Regions from separate parts of the Homo sapiens genome. Here all the other regions are linked to region 3. The links come from fine-mapping of genetic effects on gene expression. A gene starts in region 3. Each other region holds a variant in brackets. All regions are shown on one strand. Distances are between the middles of the regions.

Evidence for each region. PIP is the estimated chance that this variant, and not a neighbour inherited with it, causes the effect. A credible set is the group of variants that fine-mapping cannot tell apart.
Region 1: its variant is the best candidate, but not a certain one, in a credible set for the expression of GPR137B in whole blood (INTERVAL, PIP 0.50).
Region 2: its variant is the best candidate, but not a certain one, in a credible set for the expression of GPR137B in whole blood (TOPMed, PIP 0.59).

What each region holds. Positions count from the first base shown.
Region 1 is chr1:236,113,640-236,121,877 of GRCh38, forward strand. No RefSeq gene overlaps it. Among named protein-coding and RNA genes, the nearest start is that of GPR137B, 25 kb to the right of the region's middle. RefSeq lists an enhancer at 7,039-7,158. The variant T/C (reference allele first, on the strand shown) is at 4,371.
Region 2 is chr1:236,190,309-236,198,546 of GRCh38, forward strand. All of the region lies in intron 5 of GPR137B (G protein-coupled receptor 137B), which reads left to right. Among named protein-coding and RNA genes, the nearest start is that of GPR137B, 52 kb to the left of the region's middle. The variant T/C (reference allele first, on the strand shown) is at 3,389.
Region 3 is chr1:236,137,873-236,146,110 of GRCh38, forward strand. It overlaps GPR137B (G protein-coupled receptor 137B), which reads left to right and starts at 4,667. Exons shown (of 7, transcript NM_003272.4): 1 at 4,667-5,164. The coding sequence starts at 4,751. RefSeq lists silencers at 4,406-4,585, 4,656-4,925 and an enhancer at 4,891-5,394.

The DNA of each region.
Region 1 (8,238 bases), 24 kb before region 3:
GGAGGTAGAGAAATGCTTGCTTGGTGTGTTAGTTTCCCAGCACTGTCATGACAAAGTACCACAAACTGAGGGGCTTGAAACAACAGGATTTTATTCTCACAGTTCTGGAGGCTGGAAGATCGAGATTGAGGTTAGGCAGGGCCGTGCACCCTCTGGAGGCCCTGGGGGAGGCTCCTTCCCGGCCCTTTCCCAGCATCTGGCATTGCTGGCAGCCCTTGGGATTCCTTGGCTTGTAGATGTGTCACTCCAGTCTCTGCCTTTGGTGTCACAGGAACTTCTCCCCTCTATCTCTGTCTGTGTCCAAACATATCTTTCCTTTATACAAACACCAGTCATTGGATGTAGGGTTCCTACTCCAGCATGACCTCATCTTACCTTGATTATATCTGCAAAGACCCCATTTCCAAATAAGGTCACTTTCACAGCTACAGCGGGGGGCAGGGTTGGGACTTCAAAATATCTTTTGGGGGAACACAAAAGATATATTGATATATATATTTCCCCTACATCATTTGGGGAAGTGATATTTGAGCCAAGATCTGCAGCTTGAGAAAATCTTATCCAGTCAAAGAGGTCAGGAAGCAGGTTCTGGGCAGGATGTGGCCTGTGCAAAGGCCCTGGGGCAGGAGGGAGCACAGCACCTACAAGGGACTGAGCAAGGGCAGAGGAAGGGATGGGCTTTGGGCACTGATTATCTTTAGGAGTGAAAGAGTTGCTAGGTATTATTATTGTTGTTTCTATATAAAGGATCACACAGGACAGGTCTCAGTGCCCCGTCCTGATGTGCTGTCCAAGCTGCTCAATCTGTTTTCCTGCTGTATGCCTCACACCCAGTTCTTTTCCCATCACGTATCATTCAGAGCAATGTGCAACCGCAAATATTTCTAAATGGGGAGAACTCAGGCAGATGGCGCGGCATGCCTTCAGCTCAGTGCACAGACTCTGCCCCAGACAACCCACCTGTGTGTCCACATTCCCCACTGACTGAGCACCTCCTGAGGGTGGGGGGCATATCATGTTAATATTTGTACATCCAACATTTCATGAAATGTTATGAACATCAGAGGAGTTTTATAAGTGTTTGCTAAATGTTACTGACTTAGATTTTCAGGGTGTGGCCAATTCCATCCGAAGGGCGTTATTTATCTTGTCACTAACCGTATCCTAGAGAAGTTATTAAGCATCCGTCTAATTCAAAGGAAAATGGGTAGATGGTGGGAGGATTAGAGAGTGGACGCCATGTTGGAATGCAGGGGTAGGGGAAAGCCAGCTTGCTAATCAGAATGTCAGTGAAGGCTGGGAGCTGGGGCTCACGCCTGTTACCCCAGCACTTTGGGAGGCTGAGGCGGGAGGATCAGTTGAAGCCAGGACTAGCCTGGGGGAACACAATGAGACTGTGTCTCTACAAAAAAAAAAAAAAAATTAAATACATTAACCAGGTGTGGTGGCACATGCCTGTAATCCCAGCACTTTGGGAAGCTAAGGTGGGCAGATTGCTTGAGCCCAGGAGTTCAAGACCAACCTGGGCAATATGACAAAACCCCATCTCTACAAAAAATATAAAAATTAGCCAGGTATGATGGTGCACACCTGCAGCCCAAGTTACTCAGGAAGGTGAGGTGGGAAGATCACCTGAGCCCAGTGAGGTCGAGGCTACAGTGAGCCGTGATGGTGCCACTGCACTCCATTCTGGGTGTCAAAGTGAGATCATGTCTCTAAATAAATAAATAAATAATTGTTCTATAGAATTTTATTGATTTAAGAAAATGTTCAGAATAGATTTATAAGTAAAAAATTTAAAAGGTATATATACATAGGCCGGGTGTGGTGGCTCACTTTGGGAGGCCTTTGGGAGGCCAAGGTACGTGGATCACCTGAGATCGGGAGTTTGAGACCAGTCTAACCAACATGGAGAAACCCCGTCTCTACTAAAAATACAAAAATTAGCCAGGTGTGGTGGTGGGTGCCTGTAATCCCAGCTACTCGGGAGGCTGAGGCAGGAGAATCACTTGAACCTGGGAGATGGAGGTTGCAGTGAGCCAAGATTGTGCCATTGCATTCCAGCCTGGGCAACAAGAGCAGAACTCCATCTCAGAGAAAAAAAAAAAAGGCATATATACGTGTGTGTTGATTTGTGTATAGAATAAGACATGCATTTAAAAAAAAAAAGGTAGGATTGCAAGTGGGGTTTTTTCTTTTTCTTTTCTTTTTCTTTCTTTTTTTTTTTTTTTGGAGACGGAGTTTCGCTCTTGTTTCCCCGGCTGGAGTGCAATGGCGTGATCTTGGCTCAGCACAACCACCGCCTCTTGGGTTCAAGCGATTCTCCTGCCTCGGCCTCCCAAGTAGCTGGGATTACAGGCATGTGCCACCAGGTCTGGTTAATTTTTGTATTTTTAGTTGAGACGGGGTTTCTCCATGTTGGTCAGGCTGGTCTCGAACTCCCAACCTTAGGTGATCTGCCCACCTTGGCCTCCCAAAGTGCTAGGATTACAGGTGTGAGCCACCGCACCCAGCTCCGGTTTTTTTCTGTTTCTGAATTTTCCTATGTGTGCTGCATGGAACCATTATAATTAATTTTAAAAAGCAAATATATTTCATTTGTCTCTTGAAAACTTAAAACAACTCTTTATAAGAATTTTACATGTGCAAGATGGTATACTATATAGTCATTTACAATAATGTTTTAAAAGAATATTCCATAATATGAGAAAATATTCATGCTATATTTAGTGGAAGGAATAGGTTATGTAAAATATACTGTTTTTGTTTGTTTGTTTGTTTGAGATGGAGTTTTGCTCTTGTTGCCCAGGCTGGAGTGCAATGGTGTCATCTCGGCTCTCTGCAACCTCTGCTTCCCAGGTTCAAGCGATTCTTCTGCCTCAGCCTCCTGAGTAGCTGGGATTACAGGCATGCACTACCACACCTGGCTAATGTTTTGTATTTAGTAGAGATGGGGTTTCACCATATTGGTCAGGCTGGTCTCGAAGTCCTGACCTCAGGTGATCCACCCACCTCAGCCTCCCTAAGTGCTGGGATTGCAGGCATAATCCACCACACTTGGCCAATATACCATAATTTTTAAAAGGGCATTTACAGAAAGACTATCAGTAAGTCTGGTATAATACATATAAACTGTGGGGTTACCAGGAATGCATATCTGCTTCTTTATACTTTTCTGTATTTTCCAGATTTTTAATTATGAATATGAATATGAGTATGAAGCTATAATAAGAAAAGTTATTTGAAAGTCACATTATCAAATTGTTCAGGTTATCATGGCCAGGCAGGGTGGCTCATGCCTGTAATCCCAACACTTTTCGAGGCCGAGGTGGGCAAATCGCTTGAGCCCAGGGGCTCGATACCAGCCTGAGCAACATGGCAAAACCTTGTCTCTACAAAAACTATAAAAATTAGCCAGATATGATGGTGCACACCTGTGATTCCAGCTACTAGGGAGGCTGCAGTGGGAGGATTGCTTGAGCCCAGGAGGCAGAGTTTGCAGTGAGTCATGATTTCACCACTGCACTCCAGCCTGGGCAAAAGAGCAGGACCCTGTCTCCAGAAAGAAAAAAAAAAGTGTCAAGTTGAGAGACAATGGTTATTTTTTATTTTTGAGATGGAGTCTCGCTCTGTCACTCAGGCTGGAGTGCAGTGGCACCATCTCGGCTCACTGCAACCTCCATCTCCCGGGTTCAAGTGATTCTTCTGCTTCAGCCTCCCGAGTAGCTGGGACTTCAGGCACGAGCCACCTCGTCCGGGTAATTTTTGTATTTTTAGTAGAGACGGGGTTTCACCATATTGGCCAGGCTGGTCTCAAACTCCTAGACCTCATGATCCGCCCACCTCGGCCTCCCAAAGTGCTGGGATTACAGGTGTGAGCCATTGCGCCTGGCCAACAATGATTATTTTTAATTTTATTCCATGGTTTTCTATATTTTCCAAATTCTTCTCAATAACATAAAAATGATTTCATATTGTATTAATTACTACAATGCAACATTGTAAGGTCGGGGGACGCTGATGGTAGTCTACCTCCTGATCCTCTAGTATGCAGTATTTCACCCAGGGTTTTCACAAGCAGTTTCTCATTTGGTCCTCAGAGGACCCTATACCTAGGTGAGGATGGCGGTGCTGCTTCTGAGAAGTCGCTGCCTCCCCTTCTCCCTTTAGCCTCCCTGGCAAAATAAGACACTTCGATTGCGGGGCCACAGTCAGTTCTGACTCTGATATCTTACGACACCTATCAGGGATCAGCCTGGACCTGTTACCTGAGCGGGGTGTGGCCTCCTTTCCTCTGCGCTTTCCCCACACCTGAAACTCCTGATCATTCAGCCCCTTACCTCTCCCAAGCTTTCAGCACGAGCTCTCCT[T/C]CTTAGCCTTCTAAATAAATAAACAACACCTGCACAGAACACTGCCATTTTCTGTAAGCTTTTCTTCCCCTTTAAAAATTGCAGTAAAATATACATAAGACAAAATGTATCATTTAAATCATTTTAAGTGTACAATTCAGTGGGGTGATATACATAAGGCAAAATGTATTATTTAAATCATTTTAAGTGTAAAATCCAGTGCCTTTAAGTCCCTTCACGATGTCGTTGCAACTGTCACCACCATCCAGCTCCGGAACTTCTTAATCATCCGTGGGTAAGCTTTTGAAGCTTTTGAATCCATAGTCTCATAACATTTTATTGCCGTCCTCATCGTCAGGTGAGGAAACTGAGGCTTTCTTCCTTACCTTGCTTTTGTGTTTTCTCTTTAACACTTGCACTCTGGCTTTTGCCCGTGGCTGTCCTGGAACTGACTCCCTTCAGGCTGTCAAAGGCCTCCTGGGGGCTGAGTTTCATGGGCTGCTTCCTGGTCTTGTCTTGTTTCTGGTCTGCAGCATTTGACAATCTTGTTTTCCAATCTCTCTTAGAAATTATCTCCTCCCCAGGTTTCCATAATACTCTCTGTCTTGAGTTTCCTACTACTAATTCTTGGGTGTTTTCTTGTCCTTTTCTTTTCATGTTTTTCTGTTTGATTGTTTTGTTTCTTTTTGTTGTTTTGAGACGGAGTCTCGCTCTGTTTCCTAGGCTGGACAGCAGTTGCTTTATCCTAGAACTTATGATGTAGCTGCCTGTGTGCCCATCTGTCTCCACAACAGAGCAAGGTCCTGGAAGCAGAGGTCGGGGGCGTGGGGGAGGTCTTGCTTGTCCTCTTTATGTCTCAGTGCTTAGTGTACCTTATATTTGGACAATGAATAAATAAATGTGCGCTGCTCTAGAAAAGAGATCATTGTCTCAATGGAGTGAAAATCAGTAAGGGGTAGGTCTCGGCTCACTGCAACCTCCACCTCCCTGGTTCAAGTAATTCTCCTGCCTCAGTCTCCCGAGTAGCTGGGATTACAAGCGCTCACCAACCCGCCAGGCTAAATTTTTGTATTTTTAGTAAGAGATGGGGTTTCACCACATTGGCCAGGCTGGCCTTGAACTCCTGACCTCAGTTGATCTGCGGGCCTCGGCCTCCCAAAGTGCTGGGATTACAGGCGTAAGCCACTGTGCCTGGCCCCTTTTCATGTTTTTATGTTTTGAGACGGAGTCTCGCTCTGTCACCCAGGCTGGAGTGCAATGGCGTGATCTCGGCTCACTGCAACCTCCACCTCCCTGGCTCAAGCGATTTTCCTGCCTCAGCCTCTCAAGTAGCTGGGATTACAGGCGTGAGCTACCACCCGGCCTCTTTTCATGTTTTTAAATTAGTCTCCCCTTTTTATTTTATTTTATTTTTTAGATAGAGACAGGGTCTCGCTATGTTGCCCAGGCTGGTCTCGAACTCCTGGACTCAAGCAGGTTCTTTTCTTCAGGCTTCTCCTTCTCCTGCCTCAGGAACTCATCCTCACTCCCTGCAACGTTTCAATAAGCACTTGCCTGGTTTGCCTGCCTCTGGCCTTGCTAATTAGACAACTACGATCTTTCTACCAGGAAAGTGTGATCCTGCCCTCAAGTCTACAAGGGCGGCCTGAGCTGACATGATAACATCTAACCTCTTTAGTTAGATATAGGATGTCCCTTGTCATCTGGCCCCTGGTGACCTCTAACAATATCCCCATCCCACTCCACCCCTTTACAGTCTGCAGTAGAACCGTCTGCAGTCCCAGTGCTGGAAGCCCAGGCTGCCTCATGCCTCCCTGTCTCTGCATACATGGTCGCTTTATCCTAGAACATATGATGTAGTTGCCCGTGTGCCCATCTGTCTCCACAACAGAGCAAGGTCCTGGAAGCAGGGGTAGGGGCGTCGGGGAGGTCTTGCTTGTCCTCTTTATGTCTCAGTGCTTAGTGTACCTTATATTTGGACAATGAATAAATAAATGTGCGCTGCTCTAGAAAAGAGATCATTGTCTCGATGGAGTGAAAATCAGTAAGGGGCAGAGTAAGGACTGGACATCAGGTCTTGGAAAGTTCTGACCCTTCCCACTATGTAAACATCCTTTCTACTGAGGGACCTCACGGGGTGACAAAGCCTTAGAGGAAATGTACGCAGTCTCTGCATGGTCCTAAGAAAATAAAGGAAATAAAGTAAGTGTTGTAATCCTGGACTGGAGTAGAAAGACTTCTTAGGGGGAGGCATTTTAAGGAGGGTGGAGAGGGGGATGCTTCCCGCCTCCGGATCACAGTCTACGAGAGCTTGCTGCTTTAGATGAGCCCACACCAGACCGAGACACAGGCAGAGCGGTGCGGCTGAAAGACATCTCTGCATCAGAAAACTTGAGTCCTGGTTTTTTCTACATCTGCCGCTGACTAGCAGATCTCAGAAGGCCCAGCAGCCTTCAGGTGTAAAACAAAGGAGTATTTTCCATCTCTTTCAACCCGAAAATCCAGAAAGTGGGGACATCTGTGTTTGAAGATTGTTCAACATTTTTCAGATTAAACTGATCCACATTTTCCAAGGTATCAAAGTGGTGGCTGCATCCTCTCATGGTGCTGGGAATCACAGACTTCTCCCCTCACCCTTGATTGTGACCTGATTCTAGAAGACGGTTGCTGATAGAAATGTCCAAGTTATTCAAGGGGCTTCTCTAGAGGAAACAACTTCCATTTCACTCTTGATTCTCTAGAGGAAATATAACTTTCGTTTCACTCTTGATTCTCGAGAGGAAACAACTTCTGTTTCACTCTTGATTTTCACTATTTTCACGTTACGGGTTGAGATAAATGGCCTTAGATTTGACTCATCGAGGAGAGAGCGATTCTGCCTAGAGTTCTTTGAAAGCCGGCTGTACTGAGTGAGATCCTAGGTCACTGCAGAGAAGGAAAGGGAAGAGAAGTGGGGAGGGAGAGGGGAACAGAGAGGGGCACGGAGAGGGACAGGGAGATTGGTTTCCTTTGACAAACCCAGCTGGTTTCCTCGGTAGTTGTGTGTGGTTTCCACCAAACCCACCTATCACTTAGTTAGGACTGCTAATTAGGGGGCAGAGATGAGGACTGCTGTCTGTAGTCGTAAAGATGGTTACTAAGCAGGAGGCTGAGCTGGTGGTTGCAGCTGACACTGGAAATTCACCCAGCTTCGCCCCCCGGGAGATGTGCCACCCCTACATCGTAGGCAGCTGTGGGCCACAGGCATTTCGTTCTCCAAAATCCTACATTCATCTTACTTCATTTAATGTTTGCAGCCACATAAGAAGTAGAAAACATAACTTGATTTCCAGATTAGAAGACTGAAGTTTGGACAGAAAAAATAACTTGCCCAGTGTCACCCAGCGGGCACACGGAGGAGCTGGGATTCAACATCAATGACTCCAGGACCATGGTCTGTCTCCACGAGACTAGTCTACCCACCTCGATTCTCTGCCTGGTAGGCCTTCCCCACTTTTCCACCTGCTAAATCAATCACACCTGGTTGCATCTCTCCTTCTTTCCTCCCCTAACCCAAGACTCTTTTTTGTTGTTGTTGTTTTGGAGATGGAGTTTGCTGTTGTTGCCCAGGCTGGAGTGCAGCGGCACGACCTCGGCTCACCACAGCCTCTGCCTCCCGGGTTCAAGCGATTCTCCTGCCTCAGCCTCCCGAGTAGCTGGGATTACAGGCACGCGCCACCATGCCCAGCTAATTTTTGTATTATTAGTAGAGATGGGGTTTCACCATGTTGCCCAGGGTGGTCTTGAACTCCTGACCTCAGGTGATCCACCCGCCTCAGCCTCCCAAAATGCTGGGATTACAGGCGTGAGCCACCATGCCCGGCCATATCCCATGACTCTCTAAAGCACT
Region 2 (8,238 bases), 52 kb after region 3:
TGGGGGCATTTAGCCCATTTACATTTAAGGTTAATATTGTTATGTGTGAATTTGATCCTGACATTATGATGTTAGCTGATTATTTTGCCCATTAGTTGATGCAGCTTCTTTATAGTGTTGACGGGCTTTACAATTTGATATGTTTTTGCAGTGGCTGGTACTGGTTGTTCCTTTCCATATTTAGTGCTTCCTTCAGGAGGTCTTGTAAGGCAGGCCTGGTGGTGACAAAGTCTCTCAGCATTTGCTTGTCTATAATGGATTTTATTTCTCCTTTACTTATGAAGCTTAGTTTGGCTGGATATGAAATTCTGGGTTGAAAATTTTTTTCTTTAAGAATGTTGAATATTGGCCCCCACTCTCTTTTGGCTTGTAGGGTTTCTGCAGAGACAGCTGCTCTTTGTCTGATGGGCTTCCCTTTGTGGGTAACCCGACCTTTCTGTCTAGCTGCCCTTAACATTTTTTCCTTCATTTCAACCTAGGTGAATCTGACGATTATGTGTCTGACGATTATGTGTCTTGCCCTTCTTAAGGAGTATCTTTGTGGTGTTCTCTGTATTTCCTGAATTTGAATGTTGGCCTGTCTTGCTAGGTTGGAGAAGTTCTCCTGGATAATATCCTGAAGAGTGTTTTCCAACTTGGTTCCATTCTCCCCATCACTTTCAGGTACACCAATCAAATGTAGATTTGGTCTTTTCACATAGTTCCATGTTTCTTGGAGGCTTTGTTCATTCCTTTTTATTCTTTTTTCTCTAATCTTGTCTTCTTGCTTTGTATCATTAAGTTGATCTTCAATCTCATATCCTTTCTTCCACTTGATCGATTTGGCTCTTGATACTTGTGTATGCTTCACGAAGTTCTTGTGCTATGTTTTTCAGCTCCATCAGGTCATTTATATTCTCCTCTAAAGTGGTTATTCTAGGTAGCAATTCATCTAACCTTTTTTCAAGGTTCTTAGCTTCCTTGCATTGGGTTAGAACATGCTTCTTTAGCTCGGAGGAGTTTATTATTACCCACCTTCTGAAGCGTACTTCTGTCAGTTCATCAAACTCATTCTCTGTCCAGTTTTGTTCCCTTGCTGGCGAGGAGTTGTGATCCTTTGGAGGAGAAGTGGCATTCTGGTTTTTGGAATTTTCAGCCTTTTTGTGCTGGTTTCTCCCTATCTTTGTGGATTTATCTACCTTTGGTCTTTGATGTTGGTGACCTTCGGATGGGGTCTCTGAGTGGACATGCTCTTCCTTTCTGTTTGTTAGTTTTCCTTCTAACAGTCGGACCCCTCTGCTGCAGGTCTGCTGGAGTTTGCAGGAGGTCCACTCCAGACCCTGTTTGCCTGGGTATCACCAGCGGAGGCTGCAGAACAGCAAAGATTGCTGCCTGTTCTTTCCTCTGGAAGCTTTGTCCCAGAGGGGCACCTGCCAGATGCCAGCCAGAGCTCTCCTGTATGAGGTGTCTGTCAGCCCCTACTGGGAGGTATCTCCCAGTCAGGATACATGGGGGTCATCGACCCACTGAAGGCGGCAGTCTGACCCTTAGCAGAGCCTGAACGCTGTGCTGAGAGATCTCCTTCTCTCTTCAGAGCCATCAGGCAGGCACATTTAAGTCTGCTGAAGCTGTGCCCACAGCTGCCCCTTCCCCCAAGTGCTCTGTCCCAGGGAGATGGGGGTTTTATCTATAAGTCCCTGACTGGGGCTGCTGCCTTTTTTTCAGAGATGCCCTGCCCAGAGAGGAGAAATCTGGCAGTCTGGCCACAGTGGCCTTGCTGAGCTGCCATGGGCTCTGCCCAGTTTGAACTTCCCAGCGGCTTTGTTTACACTGTGAGGGTAAAACCACCTACTCAAGCCTCAGCAATGGCGGATGTCCCTCCCCACACCAAGCTTGAGTGTCCCAGGTCGACCTCAGACTGCTTCTGTGCTGGCAGCGAGGATTTCAAACCAGTGGATCTTAGTTTGCTGGGCTCCGTTGGGGTGGGACCTACCGAGCCAGACTACTTGGCTCCCTGGCTTCAGCCCCCTTTCCAGGGGAGTGAATGGTTCTGTCTCACTGGCGTTCCAGATGCCACTGGGGTATGGGGAAAAAAAAAAAAACAAAAAACCTCCTGCAGCTGGTTCAGTGTCTGCCCAAATGGCCGCCCAGTTTTGTGCTTGAAACCTAGGGCCCTGGAGAGGTAGGCACCAGAGGGAATCTCCTGGTCTGCGGGTTGTGAAGACTGTCGGAAAAGTGCAGTATCTGGGCCGGAGTGCACAGTTCCTCAGGTTCAGTCCCTCATGGCTTCCCTTGGGTAGGGGAGAAAATTCCCTGACTCCTTGCACTTCTCGATCGAGGCGACACCCCACCCTGCTTCGGCTCACCCTCCGTGAGCTGCACCCACCGTCCAAGCAGTCCCAGTGAGAAGAACCAGGTACCTCAGTTGGAAATGCAGAAATCACCCACCTTCTGTGTCGATCTCGCTGGGAGCTGCAGACTGGAGCTGTTCCTATTCGGCCATCTAATAGGTGATATGTTTTTATCGCTGTATGACATCACTGGTTTTAAGGAATTTTAAGTTTTTCTTAAATGTTTCCTTTTTATCATTTCATTTCAAGCTTTTTTTGTTTGTTTGTTTATTTGGATACAGAGTCTGGCTCTGTCACCCAGGCTGGAGTGGAGTGGGGTGATCTCAGCTCACTGCAACCTCTGCCTCCTGGGTTCAAGCGATTCCCCTGCCTCAGACTCCCAAATAGCTGGGATTACAGGTGCCTGCTACCACGCCTGGCTAATTTTTGTATTTTTAGTAGAGATGGGGTTTCATTATGTTGGCCAGGCTGGTCTTGAACTCCTGAACTCAGGCGATCCACCTGCCTTGGCCTCCCAAAGTGCTGGGATTACAGGTGTGAGCCACTGTGCCTGGACTATAATTTCAAACTTCTTGACCCACATCAAGAAGTTTGAAATGATAAAAAGGACACATTTAAGGAAACCATTTGTGGATATGAGTGGACATTTGGGTCATTTCCACCATTTGGCTATGATGAATAAGGCTGTTATAAACATTTGTGTATAAGTTTCTGTGTGAACATATGTTTTCATTTCTCTCGGGTATATTCTTAGGAGTGGAATTGCTGGGTCATATGGTATTTCTGAGTGTCACTTTCTGAAAAACTGCCAGACTATTTTCCACAGAGACAGCACCATTTTACATTCTCACCAGCAGTGTATGAAGGTTCTGATTCCTCCACGCTCCTAGCACTTGTTATCTGACTTTTTGATTCTAGATATCATAATGTGTATTAAATGATATCTCCTTTTGGCTTCTGATGTATATTTCTCTGATGACTAAGTTTGTCGAGGATCTTTTTGTGTGCTTAGTGGTCATTTGTATATCCTCTTTGGAGAAATGTCTGTTCACATCCTT[T/C]GTCCATTTTTAAACTGGGTTGTCTTTTTATTATTGAATTGTAAGAGTTCTTTATATGTTTTAAATATACTCTTAAGTCCCTTGTCAGGTATATGATTTGCACATATTTTCTCTCATTCTGTAGCTGTCTTTTCACTTTCTTGATTGGTATCCTTTGAAGCACAAAAGCTTTTACTTTTGTCCACTGTATTTATCTTTTGTTGCTCGTGTTCTGGTGTCATACCCAAGAACCCTTTGCCACATCGTATACTGATGGTCCCTGATTTACAACAGTTCAACTTACAATTTTTCAACTTTACAGATGGTGTGAAAGCAGGACACATTCAGTAGAAACTATAATTGAAATTTTGAATTTTTTAATCTTTTCCTAGGCTAACAATATGGGGTATGATAATCTCTCAAGATGTATAGAGCAGTGAGGCACAGCTCTCAGTCAGCCATGCGATCATAGGGGTCAACAACTGATACTCTATGGTGTGTATTTTTTATTTGTTTTCAACTTACAATGAGTTTATCAGAATGTAACCTCATCATAATTTTGAGAAGCATCTGTATTTGCCCCTGAAAACTTGCCCCTATATTTTTTTCTAAGAGTTTTGTAGTTTTTGTTCTTACATTTGGTCTTTAATACATTTTGAGTTATTTTTTGTATATGGTGTGAGATAAGGATCCAACTTCATTCTTTTGCGCGTGGCTCATAGGTATTCTTAAACTATTAAAAAGAGTAAATTTTAAGGCAATCCACCTTGTGTTAGTTCCACTTTGCTCCTTATGTTTGGCTGCAATTAGTCTTAGCAAAGCAGGAATTCACATTTAGATAGCCGTCATGTGGCCACCTCTGTTCATGTTCTATTAACTTTTAAATAGGTCACTGATGTTAAGAACAATGATGTCAAAACATATGCCTGATTTGGTGTACCATATAATCTAGTTCTGATCTTGTTTAGGCTTTCCTGACAAAGACAACTTTACTTTTTAGAAGCTGCTGGCAGAAAAGGCTTTTCAAACCCCAACAGTCATCCCAGGGCAGCTGTGATACTGAAAACTGGCAATGACCTCTAGGGTGTACCTGAGACCAGTCATTGGAAATTTTTTGAGAGGTAAACTCAGTTTGGGGGCAGAAACAGGATGAAATGATTATAGAGGCAGGAGATGGAAATGGGATGAGAAATCCTCCCCAAATGATTTCACCATTGTTATGACTGCTCTCATGATTTATATCCAAATTGAACTATCTACTTTATTCTGGCTAATTTGGGCATCATCTAGCTTTTAAAAATTTTTTTGTAGGTACATAGATAATAGGTGTGTATATTTATGGGGTACATGAGATGTTTTGATACAGGCATGATGATTATTTCACATCATGGAGAATGGTGTCTCCATCCCAAGCATTTATCCTTTGTTTTACAAACAATCCAATCACACTCTTTTAGTTATTTTAAAATGTACAGTTATTATTGACTATATAGTCCACCCTGTTGTTAGTGCTATCAAATAGTAAGTCTTATTCATTCACTAAAATTCTTTTTTTTTTTTTCCCCATTAACCATACTCTCCCCCCGCCACTACCCTTCCCAGCCTCTGGCAACCATCCTTCTCCTCTCTGTGTCCATGAGTTCAATTGTTTGAGTTTAGATCCCACAAATAAGTGAGAACATGCGATGTTTGTCTGTGTCTGGCTTATTTCACTTAACATAATCATCTCCAGTTCATCCATGTTGTTCCAAATTACTGGATTTCATTCTTTTTTATGGCTGAGTGGTACCCCATTCTGTATATGTTCCACATTTTCTTTATCCATTCATCTGCTGATGAACACTTAGGTTGCTTCCAAAGCTTAGCTATTGTGAACAGTGCTGCAACAAACACAGGATTGCAGATATCTCTTCAATATCCTGATTTCCCTTCTTTTGGGTAGATACCAGCAGTGGGATTGCTGGATCATGTGGTAGCTCAATTTTTATTTTTGAGGAACTGCCAAACTGTTCTCCATAGTGGTTGTACTAATATACATTCTCACCAACAGTGTTCAAGGGTTCCCTTTTCTCCACATCCTTGCCAGCGTTTGTTACTGCCTTTTAGATATAAGCGATTATAACTGCAGTGAGGTAATATCTCACTGTAGTTTTGATTTGCATTTCTCTGATGATCATTGATGAACACTTTTTGATATGCCTGTTTGCCATCTGTATGTTGCCTTTCGAGAAATGTCTGTTCAAATCTTTTGCCCATTTTTAATTTTGATTACTACACCTTTTCCTAATATTCTGGTTGTTAATCCCTTGTCAGATGGGTAGTTTGCAAATATTTTCTCCCATTCTGTGGGTTGTCTTGACTTTGTTGTTTCTTTTACTGTGCAAAAGCTTTTAACTTGATATGATCCTATTTTTCCATTTTGCTTTGGTTGCTTGTAGGATATTGCTCATGAATTCATTTATTTTTATTTTTATTTATTTTTGAGATGGAGTCTTGCTCTGTTGCCCAGGCTGGAGTACAGTAGCATGATCTTGGCTTACTGCAATCTCTGCTTTCTGGGTTCAAGTGATTCTCCTGCGTCAGCCTCCTGAGTAGCTGGGACTACAGGCATGAGCTACCACACCCAGCTAATTTTTGTATTTTTGGTATAGATGGGTCTTCACCGTGTTGGCCAGCCTGGTCTCGAACTCCTGACCTCAAGTCATCCACCTGCCTCAGCCTCCCAAAGTGCTGGGATTACAGGCATGAGCCACTGTGCGTGGCCAAGAATTAATATTATTTTTAAATTTTTGTCTTAATTTCAAAAGTTTTTGGGGAATAGGTAGTGTTTGGTCACATGGAAAAGTTGTTTAGTGGTGACTGCTGAGATTTTGGTGCACCCATTACCTTAGCATTGTACACTGTACCCAATGTGTAGTCTTTTATCCCTCACCCTCTTCCACCCTTCCCCCAGGTCCCCAATTCCATTATATTGCTCTTATCCCTTTGCATCTTCATAGCTCAGCTCCTGCTTATAAGTGAGAAGATATAATGTTTGGTTTTCCATTCCTGAGAGTTATTTCACTTAGAATAATGGTCTCCAACTCCATCCAGGTTGTTGTGGATGCTATTTCATTCCTTTTTATGGCTGAGTAGTAGTCCATGGTATATATATACCATTTTTCTTTATCCACTAGTTGGTTGATGGGCATTTAGGCTGGTTCCATATTTTTGTATTTTGGGAACTGTGGATTGTGTGGCTATAAACATGCCTGCACAAGTGTCTTTTTCATATAATGACTCCTTTACCTCTGGGTAGATACCCAGTAAGTGGGATTCCCACCAGCAGTATAAAAGTGTTCTTTTTTACTACATCCATGCCAACATCTGTTATTTTTTTATTTCTGAATTATGGTCATTCTTGCAGGAGTAAGGTATGGGGCATCTCATTGTGGTTTTGGTTTGCATTCCTCTGAGAATTAGTGATGTTGAGGATTTTTTCATGTTTGTTGGCCATATGGATATCTTCTTTTGAGAATTGTCTATTCATGTCCTTAGCCCACTTTTGGATGGGATTAGTTGTTTTTTTTTCTTGCTGATATGTTTGAGTTCTTGAAGATTTTGGATATTAGTCCATTGCTGGATGCATAGTCTGTGAATATTTTCTCCTACTCTATGACTTGTCTGTTTACTCTGCTGATTATTTCCTTTGCTGTACAGAAGACTTTTTGTTTAATTAGGTCCCATGTATTTATCTTAGTTTTTGTTTTATTTGCTTTTGGATTCTTGGTCATGATCTCTTTGCCTAAGACAATGTCTAGAAGAGTTTTTCTGATTTATCTTCTAGAATTTTTCTGGTTTCAGGTCTTAGATTTAAGTCTTTGATCCATCTTGAGTTGATTTTTGTATACGGTGAGAGATGAGGATCCAGCTTCATTGTTCTACATGTGGCTTGCCAATTATCCCAGCACCATTTGTTGAACAGGGTGTCCTTTCCCCACTTTATGTTTTTATTTGTGTTGTTGAAGATCAGTTGTCTGTACATATTTGGCCTTATTTCTGGGTTCTCTATTCTGTTCCATTGGGGTACCTGCCTCACTCTGTCACCCAGGTTGGAGCACAGTGGCACAATCCCGGCTCATTGGAACCTCCGCCTCCCAGGTTCAAGTGATTCTCCTGCCTCAGCCTCCTGAGTAGGTGGGATTACAGGCATCTACCGCCATGCGCAGCTAATTTTTGTATTTTTAGTAGAGACGAGGTTTCACTATGTTGACCAGGCTGGTCTTGAACTCCTGACCTCAAGTGATCCACCCGCCTCGGCCTCCCAAAGTGCTGGGATTTCAGGCTTGAGCCACTGCATCCGGCCCTGCCTGCCTATTCTTATACGAGTACTATGCTGTTTTGGTAACTATAGCCTTGTAATATAGTTGGAAGCTGGGTAATGTGATACCTCCAGATTTGTTCTTTTTGCTTAGTCTTGCTTTGGCTATGCACGATCTTTTTTGGTTCCATACGAATTTTAGAATTTTTTCTATTTCTGTGAAGAATGATGACCTTTTTGTTTTTTTGAGACAGAGTCTTGCTCTGTCGTCCAGGCTGGAGTGCAGTGGTGTGATATTGGCTCACTGCAATCTGTGCCTCCCAGGTTCAAGTAATTCTTGTGCCTCAGCCTCCAAAGTAGCTGTGATTACAGGTATGCACCACCACACCTGGCTAACTTTTGCATTTTTTAGTAGAGACAGGGTTTTGCCATGTTGTCCAGGCTGGTCTCGAACTACTGACCTGAAGTGATCTACCTGCCTGGCCTCCCAAAGTGCTGGGATTACAGGTGTGAGCCACTGTATCCAGCCTGATGATGGTATCTTGATGGGAATTGCATTGAATTTGTAGAT
Region 3 (8,238 bases):
GTCAATGGCAGATTGGAGAGGTGTACATTACCTGTGACAAGCCCTGTTAGGAGAATCACAGTGTCAGTTATAAGGGTTTGGGAACACATACATGCCTTATTTGTCAAATAACTATTTTTCTTTTGAGAGAAAGAGATGGCTTGCTCCTGGGCTGTGGAAGAGACTGAATGTCTCATCAAGAAGGCAGATTACCATGGAGTCTGAGCTGCCCGTCTTGAGCTGCATGTTATTTTGATCCATCAAGCCACCAAGTCAGGTTCCCCAAAACACCCAGCTCTACTGGAGGCTCTCAGCATTCAGGTGGACATGTCTACCTGCCCTGGGTATGGAAGACATCTTCTGTCCCCAGTTAGCCCACTGCTTATTCAATGGGCTCATGGACACAGTGACCATGCAGGCAGGGACTGACTGATCCATTTTGTAACAATCTGGACTTCCCCACCAAGGCTGACCTGGCTTTTCATGAGTATCGCCAGCCAACTCTGAGCCTTTCAAGAGGTTTCAAACTCAGGGGAAGTCCTAGACAGCCACCTGAAAGCAGATTATATAGACCTCTTTAATCACGTAGGATATCAGCAATTTGTCCTTGCTGTAATAGACAATGTTTCTGAACTTGGACTGACTTTCTTTGCCTCCTGTGCCTGCGTTATTGTCCCGGGACTTTCTGAATGCATTGCTCATCATCATGGTATCCTATACAATATTGCTCTGACCAAGGACCTCACTTTATACTAAAAGAAGAAACGTGGTAGGCTAATTTCTGTCCCTCAAGTAGCAGCTGGCCTTATCCAGTGGTGGAATGACCAATTGTAGGCTTAGTTATTGTGCCTGCAGGACAACAATGCACAGAAAGGTAGCATTGGTGTCCTATAATATATAGAATTTCTTCTGAACCCAAAGCTGACATATCGTGCTATTTGTCCTGCAGTCAGGATACATGGCTACAGGAACCAAGAGAATGGCACCTTTCACTAACACTCAGTGACTTACTTGCAAATTTTTTTGTTTCCCGTTCCTTCGCCTCTAGGCTTGGCTAGTTTGAAGGTCTTAGTAACCAAGGAGGAACTCTTCTACCCCAGGAGATTCAAGTGTGGTTTAAGTGAAATAAAAGTTGAGACCCTGGCTATTTCAGACTCCTCATGCCAGTGGGTGAATTGTAAAAAATAGTATGATGGTGTTGGCTGTGATGACAGTAACTATTAAGAGGAAGTAGAGTTGCTGTTATATGATGAGCAATAAAAGGTGAATAGACAGAATTCAATCATGGTAGTGCCTCTTGCTGCTGGCATGTCCAGTGGCAAACATTAACAAGCTTAGATTCCTCAGAAATCAGGGCTACCCCTGACTAGCTGAGATCCCTGATGAAGGGAAAGGGAAATTTTGTAACGTCCATTAAGGAGAGCAATTACAGCTTTATGACCAGTCAGAAAAACAACAACTCTAACTTATATTTTTTTCTTGCTGTGTCATATGTATGTATTTTATAAATTGATGCAAAAGTAATTGTGGTTTTTGTCATTACTTTTAATTGCAAAAAGCCACAATTACTTTGGCGCCAACCTAATAATGAATTCTCCTTTCCTTTACATTTTTTTCTTCTACTATTTTATACAGGACAAACTAGTGATGGATAACTTAATAATTTAGTCCGTAAGATACAGAATGTTGAGATGAGATGGTGACAGAATTGGAGGAATGGCTATCACCCAGAGCTCCTGGGCTTGGAGCTGGACACAGAAAATGATGATCCTTTTGGGGGAAAGAGGGAATGTGTTTTTCTGTTTTCTTCCTTCCTTCCTTCCTTCCTTCCTTCCTTCCTTCCTTCCTTCCTTCCTTTCTCCTTCCTTCCTTTTTTCCCCTCCCTCCCTCCTTCCTTCCCTTCCTTCCCTTTCTTCCCTTCCTTCCTTCCTGATGGAGTCTCACTCTGTGGCCCAGGCTGGAGCTCAGTGGCGTAATCTCAGCTCACTGCAACCTCCGCCTCCTGGGTTCCAGCGATTCTTGTGCCTCAGCCTCCCTAGTAGCTGGGATTACAGGCATGTGCCACCACACCCGGCTAATTTTTGTATTTTTAGTAGAAACAGGGTTTCACTTGGTTGGCCAGGCTGGTCTCGAACTCCTGACTTCAGTTGATCCACCTGCCTTGGCCTCCCAAAGTGCTGGGATTACAGGTGTGAGCACCTGGCTTGGAATGCTTTTCAATTGTACAAGGGTTATTAAGTGGGAGCATCTTTATTGTATTTTCAGAATTGTAAAGATGATAAGAAACATTTGACACTAGGTAGTCAAAGAGGTGAACTGTTGTAGCCATCTGGCATTCTTTTTGTCTGCTTTGAAGTCATGATAAAGATGCTAGTTTTTCCTAAATCCATTCGCCCCTTCATCCATAATTACAGAACCATGGCTTTCAGCTGTGTACAATGCCACGTGGACTAAAACTACGTTTCCCAATCTCTTGTAGCCAGCTTGCTAGGGTAATTAAGTCCTAGCAATGAGCTAAAAGTGGATGCATTATGTGGTCTTTCTGGGAAGGCTCCAGAAACAGGAGAAAACAAGTGCTCTTTAGTCTTCCCCTGTTCCTCCTAACGCTGGCCTGGGATGTGGACTCAATGTCTGGAGAGCCAGTAGCCCTCCTGGATCATGAGGTAGAATCCATGCACACTGGAGGGAGAAATATCAGAGTCTGGACCTCTGTTGACAAACAATATTCCTTCAGTGTAATAAAATGTATACGGATGCTTTTCCAATGTGCCAGGGGAGAGACTGGTAAACAAGCCTAGTTTCTATCATAAGGACACATAAATAAGTGTGTTGCGGGGGAAACTAACAATCAGGCAAGGATATTAGGGAAGCACACAGGTGAAACACCTAGCCTAATCCTGAGAGTTTGGTGGGTGGAGAGTTCTGGAGAGGCTCTCTGCAGGAAGTTACACCCTCATGGATAGCTAGGAAGGACCAGCTGTTGGAGGAAAGGGCAGAATTTTCTTAGTCTAGGGGAGTCAGGAGGTGTTAACACTGCTTAACACCTTGGAAGAGATAAGGCAGGGAGGTAAGCTAGGGTAGGAGTTTAGACTCTAACCCCAGAACTATGAGGAGCAAGGGAAGGGCATTTAAGCACGGGAGTAAAGTGGCCAGGTGTTCTTTAGAGCGATCATTCCATCATTCCACTTGCGCTGTTCAGAACGGGGATTGAGGGGAACGAGATCAGAGGCGTGGAGCCCAATTCCGTATTTCCTCTTGAAATAGCGATAGGGAGAGAGGGAAAGGATAGAAAAACTGGAAAAGGAGCTCCACGCCAAAGGCACACTTGGCCCCAGTGAACCACCTGGAATACGCTGGGAGCGCTGTAACCACTAAGTAATTCTGAGCAAAAGCTAGGGTGGATTCTGGATATGCCAGGCCGTCTTTTGGAAAAAGAACACACAATTAGGCACGAAGTGGAGTAAGAAAAGAAATCACAATTACTGGAGCCTCGGAAATCCGAGTTTCTTCTGTTTACCAGAACCGCTTGCCCAGCAATGTTTCCAGAGGGCGCCCGGCTTTCCCTCTTTTCCCAGAGCACTCCCCAGCTCTCCCAAGACAAGGGTGGCGTGGTGCCCCGGGGCAAAGACTAAGTCGCTGTACAGCCTCGAGGAGCGAGCTGCTCAGCAAAAGCAAAAGAGAAGGGCTCTCGGGTGGCGGGGACAGACCCTCCTTCGGCATGGGTTGGATCGGACAAGGGGGGCCGTGTGCCGTCAGCTGCCCCACTTCTCTCTGAAGCCCAGTGGGCTCCATCCACTGACCCGCGGCCCGCGCGCCTCCCGGCACCGGCTACATCGCTGGGAGGTGAGGCGCTGGGAGCGCGTGAGGCTCTCCGGGAGAAAACAGCCCAGCTTGCATCCCAGAGGAGGCAGCAGCCGCAGGCACCGTCTATTTCCTCACTCAGTATACAAATTTGACCTCAAAAATACGAACCCTGTCTTTGGCATGTCTGCATTTAGAAATAAACATCATTCCAGACGCCGGCCAGTTCATAGCCACAGAGTCGTAAAGTTTTATTTTTAAAGGGGGGGACGGAAAGGACTTGTAAAGTTTTTTTTTTAAATTTGTTTTTAAATAAAGGAATTAACTTCTGCAAAACAAGCAATCAGCAGCAGAATGCGCGAGGCCACGAGTGCGATCCCCCGAGGCGCGGGGCGCGGCTGGGAAGTTTTGGGGGCGCGCGGCGCGGTGCCGGGACCGGGGAGGAGGCGCGCGGTTCTGGGGGCGCGCAGTGCGGGAGCGCGCGGCCCCGGGGATGGGGAAGGGGCCGGGGACGGGTAGCGCGCGGCCCCTGGGATGGGGAGGGGGCGGGAAGGGGGGAAGAGACGCGGGGCTCTGGGGGCCCGCAGTCTGGGAGCGCGCGGCCCCGGGGATGGGGAGGGGGCCGGGAGGAGGCGTGCGGCTCTGGGGGCGCGCACTGCGGGAGCGCGCGGTGGCGAGGATAGGGCGGGCCGGGGTTCGCGGGGCGAAGGCGCGCGGTGCCCGGGGGAGGGCGGGCCGGGGCGCGCGGGCCGGGGCGGGGGCGCGCGGGCCGGGGCGGGGGCGCGCGGGGCCGGTCGGCGCGCGGGGGCGGCGGGCGCGGCGCTGCCAATCGCAGACAAAGGCCGTCCCAGTGAATCATGTGGTGCCGGGGGAGGAAGTGCGGCTTGTTTTCTTTCCTCCAGTCTCGGGGCTGCAGGCTGAGCGCGATGCGCGGAGACCCCCGCGGGGGCGGCGGCGGCCGTGAGCCCCGATGAGGCCCGAGCGTCCCCGGCCGCGCGGCAGCGCCCCCGGCCCGATGGAGACCCCGCCGTGGGACCCAGCCCGCAACGACTCGCTGCCGCCCACGCTGACCCCGGCCGTGCCCCCCTACGTGAAGCTTGGCCTCACCGTCGTCTACACCGTGTTCTACGCGCTGCTCTTCGTGTTCATCTACGTGCAGCTCTGGCTGGTGCTGCGTTACCGCCACAAGCGGCTCAGCTACCAGAGCGTCTTCCTCTTTCTCTGCCTCTTCTGGGCCTCCCTGCGGACCGTCCTCTTCTCCTTCTACTTCAAAGACTTCGTGGCGGCCAATTCGCTCAGCCCCTTCGTCTTCTGGCTGCTCTACTGCTTCCCTGTGTGCCTGCAGTTTTTCACCCTCACGCTGATGAACTTGTACTTCACGCAGGTGAGTTTCAGAGAGGCTCCTGGAGGCGCTCACCTGGCGGGGTGGTCCCCGCGGGGCGCCCGAGGCAGGGGCGATGGCAGCCGCGGGGGCGGGTCCGGCCCTAGGGCTGAGAGTGTAGGGAGAAGGCGCCGGCTCTGGGGTCGTCCGAACCCTGTCCTGTTTGCGGGCATTTGTCATAGGAAACCCCCTGCCATTCCCAAAAGGGGCAAGGAGAAGGCAGGGGAGGGCTGGAGGCCGCCGCTCACTCGCTGCCCCTGGCTCCGCATCGTGCGGTGGATTCGGGGCGCTTCTCCGTGCGCAGCGCGAAGCAGCAGCGCCTGCACACGCCAGTTAGTACGGATGGAAGGTGTGCCCCCAAGGGAGGCCTGAACTCTAGAATTTGCCCTGCCTCCCCAGGCACCTAACTCCCGGCCTGGAAAGGTCTTCTGCACGTTGGCCTCCAGATTTGGGCCTGACACTGCTGTTTTGAGCGTTGGCAGGGTGAGACCATGTTGGTTTTGATGAGATGTTTTGAACCTCCGGCTTAGGAGCTCTACAGAACTGCGGCTTACTAACTCATTCCACCGGATTGCTAAACAGCAGGCTGGGGTAACACCCAGCTCCGAGCTGCTGCCGCTCATCAGAGTTACTGTCTGAGCTCATCTGAGAGGCCCCAAGAAAAGGCCATAAAAGCTGACTGGGGCTCTTTTACAGCCACACAAAAATCACTTTATGGGGCATATTATTAAATAAGCTAATGGGAGAGTATGTGAATTAACTTGGCTGCTGCTTTACTGCTGATGGTTGACTTAATGAAAGTGCAGTAATTGTTGAGCACTTTGCAAATACTTTGTATAGCGTTGCACAAAGGTTTAATAACGCGGTGCCGCCGTCATCATCGTCATCATCATCTCTGATTCCCATTAGCTTTCCAAGCACTAAGATGTCCATTTTCACTAGGACTCTGCCGAAGGGGAAGGCGTCAACGGTGTCACCTGGTGAGGGTAATTTCAGAACTGTCGGATGGGCAGAAACCCTGTGCAAGCAGGCATCTCATTCCTTTTAAGTGTCTTTTTTTTTTTTTTTGAGAAAAAGTCACTTATTTAAAAAAAGAAAGAGGCCGTATGCGGTGGCGCATGCCTGTCATCCCAGCATTGTGGAGGCGGAGGCGGGAGGATCGCTTGTGTCCCTGAGTTTGAGACCGGCCTGGGCAACATGGCGAAACTTCCTCTCTACAAAATGTACAAAAATTAGCTGGGTGTGGTAGTGCCCGCCTGTAGTTCCAGCTACTCAGGAGGCTGAGGTGGGAGGCGGAGCCCGGGAGGCGGAGGTTGCAGTGAGCAGAGATTGAACCACTGCACTCCAGCCTGGGTGACAGAGCTAGATCCTGTCTCAAAAAAACAAACGAACAAACAAACAAAAAAAACAAAGTAGGAAAAGGATTGCTCTGGTACAGTGGAAGCCACTGACTGAAAATATGGAAGAAGTACTTTTGGCTAAAAAATAGCATATGTGATATTTTGTAGATAGTATAATCTTTTAAAAATGGGTCTACACTCAGACTTCTTGTAAGTCCAGCGCATCAGCATATTTTCCGGTCGGAGAGTAATGCGTATTGCCTGTCCAAGTACAACCTTTAAACCTGCAAACCAGTTCAGGCAGTCGGCTGCATTGCACAGACACTTGGGTTTTGTAATTGAAATGAGGTGGTTCTAGCAAGATGCAAAAGACAGGTGAGGTGATGTTACCCTAAGAACTGTGACAATGGTGGTATTGCACGTTGAGCTCTTTATATTTGTCCCCTTTTTGGGGGGCAGTGGGGGAAGAGGAAAATGCAGGGAACTGCCACAGCTCTCTGGTAATCACATGCAAATTCTGAACTTAGAGCCGGATTAGGGGCCGGGCTGCACATTTTCTGCACCATCTGCTGGTTGGTGAGTAAATGCTGAGCAAGGGAAACAGTGACCAGGCAGACAGAGCCACTCCGGCCCAGGGGCCCAAAGTCACGGCCCTGTACTCTTTATATCTCCCAGGTCTGCGGGCACCACAGCAAAGGCTTTTCGCCTGAGGGCACAGGGTGGCTGGCTGGAGAAGGTGGCATGTCTCCATCTCTGAGTGCTGGCATCTCAGAGCCTGGCAGAACAAAGCCATTTCTGGCTTAGTGACAAAACTGTGATACTTCTGGGGAGTTATAAAGCCTTTTGTCGCCAACCCAGCTCTGCCTCCCTTCTCCTCCTCTCCCGCTCACCCCCTCTTTCTCTTACACAAACCATTGGAATTACCTAAAGTGGGGAGCTTTAAGAATGACTGTTGCTTGGGCCCCCATCTCAGACCAAGTAAATGAGATTTTTGGAGAAGGGGCTGACAGCTAACAATTAAGAAGTATGTTTAAGAAAGCATACTTTCGATCTCGGCTCACTGCAGCCTCCGCCTCCCGGGTTCAAATGATTCTCCTACCTCAGCCTCCTAAGTAGCTGGGACTACAGGTGTGTGCCACTATGCCCAGCTAAGTTTTGTATTTTTAGTAGAGACAGTGTTTCACCATGTTGACCAGGATGGTCTTGATCTCTTGACCTTGTGATCTGTCCACCTCGGCCTCCCAAAGTGCTGGGATTACAGGTGTGAGCCACCGCACCCGGCCAAGAAAGCACACTTCTAAGCAATTGGTTATATTTATTTTTACCAGAACTCTCTGAAGAAAGTACCGGTATTGTCCCCATTTTCCAGAGGAGGAAACTGAGGCTGAGAGGTCGTAGATGACTTGCTCAAGGTCACACTGTCAGTGCATGGTGGAGCTGGGATTCAACACACATCTGTGCTGTCTGAGTGTGAGGTTTGTCTTTTATGTACAGTATGTGAAACCTCTTTTTATTTTATTTTTTGAGATAGAGCCTTGCTTTGTGGTGATCTGGGTTCACTGCAACCTCTGCCTCCTGGATTCAAGCGATTCTCCTGCCTCAGCCTCCCGAGTATCTGGGATTACAGGCACCTGCCACTGCACCTGGCTAATTTTTGTATTTTTAGTAGAGATGGAGTTTTGCCATGTTGGCCAGGTTGGTCTCAAACTCCTGACCTCAAGTAATCTGCCCACCTCG